Linked DNA regions of Homo sapiens. The protein of the gene in region 1 purifies or fractionates together with the protein of each later gene. This does not show direct contact. Each region holds a gene or a part of one and is shown in the gene's direction. Other genes may lie near its edges. The genes, in order: EPB41L4B, RAB21 and PCLAF.

The links.
Region 2: the proteins of EPB41L4B (region 1) and RAB21 purify together in Homo sapiens (affinity purification with mass spectrometry; one large-scale study listed by BioGRID and IntAct). This does not show direct contact.
Region 3: the proteins of EPB41L4B (region 1) and PCLAF purify together in Homo sapiens (affinity purification with mass spectrometry; one large-scale study listed by BioGRID and IntAct). This does not show direct contact.

What each region holds. Positions count from the first base shown.
Region 1 is NC_000009.12:109,212,994-109,216,643, reverse strand, and holds part of EPB41L4B (band 4.1-like protein 4B), read left to right. Parts: intron 1-2,825; coding exon 2,826-2,944; intron 2,945-3,650. UniProt on the Homo sapiens protein: Up-regulates the activity of the Rho guanine nucleotide exchange factor ARHGEF18. Involved in the regulation of the circumferential actomyosin belt in epithelial cells.
Region 2 is NC_000012.12:71,768,265-71,771,914, forward strand, and holds part of RAB21 (ras-related protein Rab-21), read left to right. Parts: intron 1-1,535; coding exon 1,536-1,595; intron 1,596-2,327; coding exon 2,328-2,435; coding exon of another isoform or gene 2,436-2,438; intron 2,439-3,650. UniProt on the Homo sapiens protein: The small GTPases Rab are key regulators of intracellular membrane trafficking, from the formation of transport vesicles to their fusion with membranes.
Region 3 is NC_000015.10:64,378,505-64,382,752, reverse strand, and holds the start of PCLAF (PCNA-associated factor), read left to right. Parts: upstream 1-1,311; 5' UTR 1,312-1,381; coding exon 1,382-1,427; intron 1,428-1,714; coding exon 1,715-1,795; intron 1,796-4,248. UniProt on the Homo sapiens protein: PCNA-binding protein that acts as a regulator of DNA repair during DNA replication.

The sequences.
Region 1 (3,650 bases):
TGGAGTCTGGAGTCTGGCTCTGTCACCCAGGCTGGAGTGCAGTGGCATGATCTCGGCTCATTGCACCCTCCCCCTCCCAGGTCCGAGCAATTCTCCTGCCTCAGCCTCCCGAGTAGCTGAGATTATAGGCATGTGCCACCACACCCAACTAATTTTTGTATTTTTAGTAGAGACAGATTTTGACTATGTTGGCCAGGCTGGTCTCAAACTCCTGACTTCAGGTGATCCACACATCTCGGCCTCCCAAAGTGCTAGGATTACAGGCGTGAGCCACCATGCCCGGTCAAGAAGTGAAGGCTTTTGAAAAGTGATTAAGTCATGAGAGTTCCACTCTTATGAATAGATTAGTGCCTTACAAAAGAGCTGGACGAAAAAAATCCCAAAGTGCTGGGATTACAGGCGTGAGCCACAGTGCCCCGCCTCCACCTCCTTTCTTAACAGTTCTCTGCCTCTGTGGTACCCAGCACTGGCTTGAGCAATGGAAAAGAGAAAGAGGGGAGGGGAGTGATGGCTGGACTTTCTACTTTCTTCATCATAGAAAAACTCATTCTATCCCATTTTTGACATTCCACTTGGGAGAGCAAAGTGGTGTCAGGTAGATCCAATCTGTCTACTGTTATGGGTCCCAGAAAGAGAAGTTACAAAAATAGAGAGTGAGCAATTAGAAATTTTATTATTTTATTTTATGACAGGGTCTTGCCATGTTGCCCAGGATGGTCTTGAACTCTTGGGCTTAAGCAACACTCCTGCTTCAGCCTCCCAAAGTTCTGGGATTATAGGCATGAGCCACCATACCCAGCCCAGAAATATTGTTAGCAATATGATAGAATGAGTTTATATCTTTTAAATCTAATAAAAATATGGGCTTTGATTCGGCATGTCCGTTATTTTATTTTTCTAGAAACTCACTTTTATTATACGTTACCAAAGAATTCATCTTTGGTATGAAAAGAACCTGTTGTTTATCAAATGTGGTTTGAAAAGTACTGAGGGCTGGACGCAGTGGTACGTGCCTATAATCTCAGCTACTCAGGAGGTTGAGGCAGGAGAATCGCTTGAAACTTGGAGGCAGAGGTTGTAATTATGCTTGTAATCCCAGCACTTTGGGAGGCCGAGATGGGTGGATCGCCTAGGTCAAGAGTTCGAGACCAACCTGGCCAACGTGGTGAAACCCTGTCTCTACTGAAAATACAAAAATTAGCTGGGCCTGGTGGCGTGCACCTATAATCCTGGCTACTTGGGAGGCCGAGGCACGAGAATCACTTGAACCTGGGAGGTGGAGGTTGCAGTGAGCCGAGATGGTGCCACCGCACTCCAGCCTGGGCGACAGAGTGAGACTCTGTCTCAAAAAAGAAAAGAAAAGAAAAGAAAAGTACTGAAGTGGAGGCTTCGATTCTAGCTCTTACCCTTGAACTGAGTTCCCTCTTTGATCTTCTATTTTCTCATCCATGAAATAGGGTAGAGGGTATTGAGATGATGACCAAGGAATCTTCCAGCTCTGATATTGTGTGAGTCTGTGAGCTGTTGAGACAGGATGGGCCATCCAACCTTCACCTTGGGGCCACAGGGAACAACTCTGTGTCAGCTGAGCTGGAAATGGAAACTCGACACCCACTTGGTATTGAAGAATCCGAACTCTGTCCCTCATCACTATCCACACTGCCCATGCCCTAGTCCCTGCCTCATCTTTGTATATCTAAATAACCATAACAGCCTCCTAAGGGGCACCCGCTCCAGGACAATCTCCAAATAGTAGCTGCCAAAGTCATAGTTCTCACCACATAACTCTGACCACATGCCATAAGACCTTTCATTAGCTCTTCACTGTCTGGGATAAAGTCCTCGCTTCTGAGCAGGGCCATACACAGACCTTGCGTATCCTGACCCCTGCCAAGGTCTTCATTCTTCCCTCCACTCCTCACCATACTCTAGCTACACAGAACTACTCTCTTCTTACAAAATACTCTACTGGGTCTCAACTCTGTCCTTTGCACCTGCTGTTCCCTTTGCCTGGAATACTTTTCCCCACCTTGTTGAACTCCTACACATCCCTTAGCAGCCCATTCAAATGTTCGCTTGTCAGTGAAATGTTCTCTAACACCCATCCTCAGTTCCGTCCTGCTCCTTTAGCAATTAAATAAACCTTTTCTCAGTCTTCTTCGGAATATCTCCACATGTGTCCGTCATCCCCATTAGATTAAAATTTTGTCTCATTCACCTCTTTCTTTCAGCTCCCAGATCCCAGTTGCTAACGATACTTGGCACAAGTTTTAATATGTAATGAATATTTAATATTTAATGAATATTTAATGTATTAATGAGTAAATTCAAGCTGGAAGGAGAAGTAGTGGCAAATGAATCCAAAGTAGCACAGAAATAAAAATCAATGGATTTGATTTTAGGAACATAACATGGCTTTTAAGGGCACGTTATATGCCTGTTTGCCTGAACACTAATCTTTCCAATTTGCATAATGCTTTTCCATTTTTAAAGCATTTATACATAAATGACTTCATTGGATATTCACAGCAACCCTGCAAGGTAAGTAATTTTATTTTCATTTTTAAATGGCTCAGAGGGTCAGAGAGGCAAAACAACGTACCCAGGGGCGTCCAGCTCATGTGTGGGACAGTTAAGCCTTGAAACCTTGACCTCAGATATTCTCACACCCTATCAGCTGATGCATACTGAAGGCATGAGAGCTGCTGGAGGAGGAGGCCGGCAGAAAGGGTGCTGGGAATCGGGCGCTGGCAAGTGTCCCTTTTCCCCTGTATCTATCTGTCCTTTCAACCTTTCCTTATTTATTTCTCCTGGCTGCTTTGTAGAACTGAGTCCAGGAACACCTGCCTTGTTCAGTGAAGCCGCTGCCCATCTAAAGAAGCTGGAACTGGAAACTGTGAAGGCTGCTGGACCCTGGCCTCCTCTGCACATCAACATAAACAAGGTGCCAAGGGCCGGGGCTCTGCCATGACCATGGACTTGGTGCTGACATCAAACCTCTGATTACTACCCTAGCCTGCCTGCTAAACCAAGTGCCTTTGCCTTGGAGGGATCTCTATTCCATCTTTCCTGACATTTCTGTTCAGGCTGTCTTTTAGGAGCAAATATTTACTTACCTTCCTTTTGGGTGAATTATAGCATTAGGCGTCGTTCCCAGTGTTTTGCCTGACAGGCTAGATCTGTTTGTTAGTTGTCTCTCCCTCCTACTAGACCGAAAGCTCCAGAGGGAGCATCCACATTTACCGCTTTGCATTTCTAGCCCTCTATCTCCCTCTGACAATGCCTGGCACATTGTAGATGTTCAGTAACCATTTGCAGATGGAAGGAAGGGAGGGATTAAGATACAGAAGGAGAAGGAGACAGGGCAGAAGCCAGGCCCCCTTTTGACTAGACCTATTCTTACATCCAAAGAGGCAGCCTTATAAAAGTCAAATTTTATCTTAGAACGATACATACCACTGCTGGATTCAGTCTGCCATTTAGTTCAACCTTCTCAATGTCTCAGACCAGAGGAAGGGAAATGACTTTCTCAAGGTTGCACAGCCCTTGACAACCTTCTCAATGTCTCAGACCAGAAGAAGAGAAATGACTTTCTCAAGGTCACACGGCCCTTCACAAGGTTGCAAAGCCCTTGACTCTCGATCCAGTGT
Region 2 (3,650 bases), on another chromosome or scaffold:
GTGGTGTGCCCATAGCAAAAAGACCTTCCTGAAATTGAGGTAAAAGAAATCTCAATTGTTTCTTTCCTTCAGTAATTCACCATCCTGACCTTTTATCTGTTTCACCTTCTTTGCACTTTCTTCTATATAAATAACACCTAAATGTGACTATCTCTATACAGGTCTGAACTCAGCTCTCTATTCCTTTTTTTTAAACACGTCAGCTGACTCTGGATTCTGGATATATTTTGTCTTCAGTAACTCTTGATACTCTTCTTTCTTTCCTATCTTCATGGTCTTAGTTCAGATCTCCTTTTTTATATTTTTCTCCAATTTTGTAAGTGTTCTTTCTACCTATCTTTTCTAGTCCAACCTCCCTTCCTATCCCAGGGTCATTCTCTTAAAATATAGATCTGTTTCCCCATTGCTTGAAACCATTCAGTGATTCTCCCTTGTCAGTAGTCCTGTTTCTTCAAACAGTTGTTCTTTAGGATGAATTTGGTATTTTTCCAGGAAAAAAAGGTTCAGTGCTATACAGAAGAAAATCAGGGAAAAAAAGTTCAAATGAGTTTGGGAAATGCTTGTATAAATACAGTCAGCTAGCCTTCCTTTTGGCAGCATCCTAATGTGTTAATGTGCATTGTTGGTGTATAAAAATCAATACATAGTATTTCCAAAGTATACTTGACGTGTGTGTGTGTGTGTCTAAATACATGTCTGGTGTCTTAGAACAGGTTTTGTTGAGACCCACAAGGTAAAGTCCATCTGTGTAGTTTCATCTCTGGTATTGACCATACCCACTTGGAGTTCCCTGTGGGATGGAGTCATGTGTTTGAGGCTTCAGTGGCTTCACTCATCTATCAGGAACAGTCCCTACTGCTCCTAAAGGGGAGATCATTACCTTCTCTCTGAAGCCTTCTTTGACTCATTCAGACAACTGTTATACTTCCTTTCTCAGTACTATCTTTACAGTGTATTTGGCAAGACCCTCCATTTTAGCAATTATCACATGGAATCGTAATTCTCTTTATTTTTATTTCTCTAGTAGAGTATAAAGGGTAGAACCGTGTCCCTTCATTTCTCTGACATTAATACTTAGGATAATTATTGAATATATGTTAAACAATTGAGTTATGAAGTAACTGTGGAATCATTTTGAATAATATTGATATTTGTACATTAAGTAAACCACCAGTAAACATTTATTTTATCTTAGAAATCTCTTAGACTCTTTCTTTCTGTGATAAGGTAGCATCAAATTAAATGCTCTAGGGAAAATTTTGTTCCACATAGATAAGGAAAAATATTAAGAAAAAAATACTTATTTTCTGTGTGTTTTGTATAACCTATTTTCAGAAAACAAGATTTTTTTTTAGATAAAAATGTAAATAATGTCTTATCTTTAATGAAACAATTTCGATCATTAATTTAAAACTCGGTGATTACTTTTTCTCCCAGATAACTTTTACATTGAGATGATTCATTCATCTATAGTTGTTAGGATAAAGAACCTTATTTTATAAGAAACATTGTTTAATGTTTATTTCTCTTTTTAGGCATCATTCTTAACAAAGAAGTTAAATATTGGTGGGAAAAGAGTAAACCTTGCCATATGGGTAAGTGAACTTTTTCAACTATTATGCGTGGAGGCTTCTTCCTTTTTTCTTTTTTTTTAAAGTTAATTGGAGCTTAGCCAACACTTTTTTTTTTTTTTAATTAAAAAGAATCTTAAAATCTGGTTGAGAATTATATCTGGAATATAATTGTATATTTGAATATTGCTGTCATAACTTTTCAGTTGGAGAAGGGTCAACTCAGAGGGGTTCCACTTCAGAGAGAGGACAGGGTGGGTGGACAGCTTGCCTGGCCTTTTTTTCCCCACCCTGTGTCTCCATATTCCAGCCTTCTAAGAGAATGGCTGGTGGGTGAGGATAATGCAGCAGATACTTCTTGACTGGTGATCTTGATGCACGTGCCATTTCCCTGTCTCTCCCAGTGTGGGAACTTAAACTTAGGGCAGAGCCTATTCCTGGCTTATAATACTGTGTTGGTTGTTTTGACCCTCTGGCAACTGAAACTGGTATTTTAATGGGGGTGGGGAAGTGCTGAGGAGGAGGAAGGTTGGGAGGGAAAAAGTAACTTTTGTATATCACTAAAACATTACATATTGGTCATAACTTAAAAATTTTGTGTGTGGCCTGTTTTGCTGTTTTGTTTCTGTTAATAGGGTTTTGTGGTTGTCTTTGACTTTATGCCATATTTTCCAATTAATCAAAAAGTTCACCATAGTTGCAATCGCAGATTTGTATTTTTCTTCTGATCTAATAAGCATTTGTTGCTTTCTTTAGGATACGGCAGGTCAAGAGAGATTCCATGCATTGGGTCCAATTTACTACAGAGATTCAAATGGAGCGATTTTAGTTTATGACATAACAGATGAAGATTCTTTTCAGAAGGTATTCTATTCATGGGTAGATGTCTTAGAAGAACAATAGTAATTTTTCAAGTTTCCATTAATATACCTTTATTCACTAATGTGATTAGTTTTCTTTTTAAAAATAAAGTATATAATTTGTGCATAACTGGTGACCACTTACATTTTATTTTTCTTTTCACCTACAACATGGTGGTGTACTCATATGTTTAATGAAATATTTGATTCATATGAATTAATTTACGTTAGAATAATTAATGCCTTATTACATGGCTTTCTCAAATATTAGGGAAGGGAAATATTTGAAATTGAGCTTCAGAAAAATATGGGGGCTTTTGTTTTTCCCTCTTAAGGAAAAATCACACATATTTCCTTAATTCCATACGCATTGGGCTCTTAAACTTGGTGTGGCTGGACGGGTTCCTTTATTGTGAAGAGGAAAAAGGAGGAACAACATCACATTTAAGCTTTCTCCTTGCCAAATATAATAAAAGTTTTAAAAGGACAGTCTTAAAGTTATCTCATTAGTTTACTTCCCTTCAAAAACACACCACATACGTATGACTCTTAAAGTTGTTTGGGACCAAAAATGAGTTACCATTTAATTACCTCTGAATTTTCATCACAATCAGATGGGTTACTTATTTGACCTTTTCTCCTAAAGCTCTTCTTGGAATATGTCAACAATGTGTAACTACAGGGAATAATGCCAAGGAAGAAGCTTTTCTTGCCTTGAGTTACAGGCTTGTTCTTGGTAAAATTACTTACCTTGTTTGTTTTGTTTTTTCTCTTTATTTTTTTTCCCAGTTAAATCTGATAGAGCAGATATACAAGTTAGCCCTTGGGTTATTAATGATAAATGGAAAAACTTAATCCAAAAGTAGAAAATGAAACGATAGGTACCTTGTAGATTTAATGATTTTTAAAAGTTATTTTGGTGCTGCTGTTTGTTATCTCCCTCTCGCGTTTTGCATGAAAAGACATAGTTTAAGTATTTTATTAAGAGAAGATTGAGGCCAGGCACAGTGGCTCACGCCTGTAATCCCAGCACTTTGGGAGGTCGAGGACAGCGGGTCACTTGAGGTCGGGAGTTAGAGACCAGCCCAGCCAACATGGTGAACTCCCATCTCTACTAAAAATACAAAAAAATTAGCTGGGTTTGGTGGCACATGCCTATAATCTTAGCTACTTGGGAAGCTGAGGCAGGAGACTTGCTTAAACTGGGGAGGCAGAGGTT
Region 3 (4,248 bases), on another chromosome or scaffold:
TCTGCCTGCCTCGGCCTCCCAAAGTGCTAGGATTACAGGTGTGAGCCACCATGCCTGACCGATTCTGTTTTATGTATGGTATTTAGAGAGTGAAAATCACTCCCCAGGGGTGTTGTGAGTAATTAGAAGGTAAGCATAAAGATAGAAAAAAATTATGACCCTTTATCCTAGAGTTATGCTCACTGTGTGACAGCGATGTGGTCTTACCACATTTGGCAGGGTCTTTTCGTTTCGTTTCGTTTCATTTCATTTCCTTGCCTTGCCTTGCCTTTCTTTTCTTTTTTCTTTTCTTTTCTTTCTTTCTTTTCTTTTCTTTCTTTCTTTCTTTTTTTTTTTTGAGACAGGATCTCGCTCTGTCGCCCAGGCTGGAGTGCATGGTGTGATTATGGCTCACTGCAACCTCTCCCTCCTAGGCACAAGCAATCTCCCGTCTCCTGAACTCAAGCCATCCTCCCACCTCAGCCTCCCGAGTAGTTGGGATTACAGGAACATGCCACTGCACCCGGCTAATTTTTGTATATTTTTTGTAGAGACGGGTTTCACCGTGTTGGTCAGGCTGGTCTCGACCTCCTGGGGTCAAGCGATCTGCCCGCCTCGGCCTCTCAAAGTGCTGGGATTACAGCCATGAGTCCCCGCTCCTGGCAGATTTGGCAGATTATTTAGGAGCTCTGACACCATTCGGTTCTCAAGAAGACGTTTTATTAGTTTCTTTTTATGTGTGTATGTATATACAATCCCCCTAGTTTTTGTTTAGTCTCACATCATCCTAAAGACATTTAAAAAAACCCTTGTAAACAAGTTGTATTAGCTTCCTTTTCCCCATTCCATAGAATTGTTTTAGTATGGATGCTGTACAAAGAGTTCATGCCTGGGGGACTAAAGGAAAGTTCTCAAGTTCTTTTAATTTTGATTTGCATCAAAAAGTCCGCTTAATTTCAGGTTTCACCTCCAGGAGTCAATCATTATGGACTTAAAGCTATAGTAACTTTTGAAGATCGTTTGTAATTCGCTGTCTTTGCTAGGTTTTCTTTTCTAAGCAGGCTCATTTCTGTAGTTCAGAAACTTAGCACCCACTAGTCGGGTACCCCTGGAGAGTCCTGGTACCGCCCACCTGGGGCGCCTACGAATCCTAGGCCTTTGCGTGTTGATGGACGGATTCGCGCTGCAAGAAGCCTCGCCGCTGTCACCACTGGGCATTGGCAATTGGTTCAGGGGGAACGGCGCGGAACCAATGGGAGCGGTGGCTCGGGAGAGACCTTGGAGCGCGCGGGAAAGAGACCAATATAAACTGTGGCGGGATAGTTTTCGGGTCCTTGTCCAGTGAAACACCCTCGGCTGGGAAGTCAGTTCGTTCTCTCCTCTCCTCTCTTCTTGTTTGAACATGGTGCGGACTAAAGCAGACAGTGTTCCAGGCACTTACAGAAAAGGTGAGGCGATCGAGTGTGGTACTGGAGGGCGGGGGGGTCCTCCCGGCAGCCTGGCCACGGGCGACAGACGCCAGAGGTCCCCCTGGGCCCTGTGCGCCAAACTCATCTAGCTAGCCAGGGAGTAGCCGCCTGGCCCCTTTACCTAGAAGAGGAAGTCGCAGGGGCAGGGTAAGGTTATCCTGCTGTTCTGGATCGCCAGGCTCTCCTCTCCAAGCTGCTGGGGTCCAGGACTCGGTGTCGGAACCCTCCTGCCCCTTCTGAACACCCTTTTTTGCCTCTCTTCACAGTGGTGGCTGCTCGAGCCCCCAGAAAGGTGCTTGGTTCTTCCACCTCTGCCACTAATTCGACATCAGTTTCATCGAGGAAAGGTAAGAAGAGCCCTCCTAAAGTTAGGGGATCAGTCCTGGCACCTGCAAGCCCCTGGCTTGCCATGAATTTCTTTTTCTTGAGGTACTCACGCCCGAATTTCTTCCTTGCCCTGTGATATAATAAGAGAGGCTGGGCCTTTTGGCCGGCTAGGGTAGAGGTGGGGGGGAGGTCTCATGGAAGGGAATTTCAAGCCTTGGAGTTAAGGACCGACACACCTTATCTTCAAGCCTATTTTTCTTTTCTTTTCTTTTTTTAGACAGGGCCTCTCTTTGTTGCTCAGGTTGGAGTGCAGTGGTGCAATCACTGGTCACTACATCCTCCACTTATGGGGCTTAAGCAATCCTCCCACCTCAGCCTCCAAAGTAGCTGGGGCTACAGGTACATGCCACCACGCCGGGCTTTTTTTTCTATTTTTTGTAGAGATGGGGGTCTCACTATGTTGCCTAAGCTGGTCTCAAACTCCTGGGCTCAAACAATCCTCCTACTGGGATTACAGGCATGAGCCACCACAGCCAGCCTATCAATTTTTGTTTTTTGGTTTAGTATTTTCCTTTTTCTTTCTCTTTCTTTTTTTGAGACAGAGTCTTGCACTGTTGCCCAGGCTGCAGTGCAACGGTGTGATCTTGGTTCACTGCAACCTCCGCCTCTCGGGTTCACACGATTCTCCTGCCTCTGCCTCCTGAGTAGCTGGGATTACAGGTGCACGCCACCACACCCAGCTAATTTTTTTGTATTTTTAGTAGAGATGGGGTTTCACTATGTTGGCCAGACTGATCTCAAACTCCTGACCTCATGATCTGCCTGCCTCAGCTTCCCAAAGTGATGGGAACACAGACGTGATCCACCACGCCCAGCTATTATTTTTCTTAATAATAACAGAGGCTATTTAAATATTGTTAGAGGCTATTTAAAAGCCCCCTTAGTAGATTAAGGGTTTGAACAATCGTTAACAGTGCTGAGTGCTCATTGCAATGTCTACTAAACTTTAATAAAAATGTTTTTGTTTTTGTTTGCTTGTTTTTCCTTTCTTCCTTACTCTTTTTTGTTTGTTTGTTTGTTTGAGTATGATGTCTGTGGGTTTTCTCCAACTTTGCAGCTCCTAATACTGTCTTTGGGAGAGTAGGAGTGAAACCCGGCAAAGGAAATAGCTTCACGCTGCTCCTTCTGTGCGTGGAGTAGATGAGAAAATGCCCTGCCATCTGGTGCCTCATTCCTTTCAGTAGGAAATTTGGCAGACAGGGAGATTAACGCTACAAGATTTAATTAAGAACATAAAGGTGAACACTGTTTAGGACTTCATGGGTTTTAAAGTCAATTCAAATTTCTCCCTATTATAAACATTTCATTAGAAAACATTTACTATTTCTATCTCTTCAGATAAAAGGAAATAGAAGTTGATGAATTTTTTTAGAGTAACTTATACCCTGTACCACTAGACTAAGTTTCTTTTTCTTTTCTTTTTTCTTTTTTTTTTTTGAGACAGGGTCTCACTCTGTTGCCCAGGCTTGAGTGCAGTGGTGCAATCACAGCTTACTGCAGATTTGACCCCAGGGTTCAAATGATCCTCCCACTTCAGGCTCTTCCCAAGTAGCTGGGACTGTAGGCGCATGCCACCACACGCCCGCCTAATTTTTGTGTTTTTTGTAGAGATGGGGTTTCATCACATTGCCCAGGCTGGTCTCGAACTCCTGGGCTGAAGCAATCCTCCCGCCTCAGCCTACCAAAGTGCTGGGATTACAGACGTGAGCCACCACGCCTGGCCTGATGAAATTTCATTAGAGCCGCATCTCATCGTCTGGTCCACTGTTGAATCACCAGAGCCAACTAAATAGGCCCTTACTGAATATATGTTGAATAAATGCATCCTTTAAGGCATTTTAAAAATCTCTATTTTTAATCCGAATAATTGGATGTATGAAATGGGTAATATCCTTATTTTAAAGATAAGGAAATTTAATATCTGGTTATATAACTTGATAAAGGTCACACAACTAAATCAGTGGAGTTGGGTTTGAACCTGTTGCTGCTATATTTTTTTTTTTTTCTGAGACACAGTCTCGCTCTGTCACCCAGGCTGGAGTGCAGTGGCATGAACTCGGCTCACTGCAACCTCCGCCTCCCGGGTTCAAGCAATTCTTCTGCCTCAGCCTCCTAAGTAGCTGGGATTACAGGCATGCGCCACCATGCCTGGCTAAATTTTGTATCTTTAGTGGAGGCAGGGTTTCACCATGTTGGCCAGGCTGTTCTCAAATGCCTGACCTCATGATCCAACTGCCTCGGCCTCACAAAGTGCTGGGATTACAGGCGTGAGCCACTGCGCCCAGCTGCTGCTGTATGTTTTCTAGTAGTAAAAGCATTCCTGTAAGGTTCCTTTGGGAAAACTGTGAACCAAAAGATCACTATCTTTTATATGCCATTCCTTCTTTTGGAGGCGAAGGCGGGACGGTTGCCT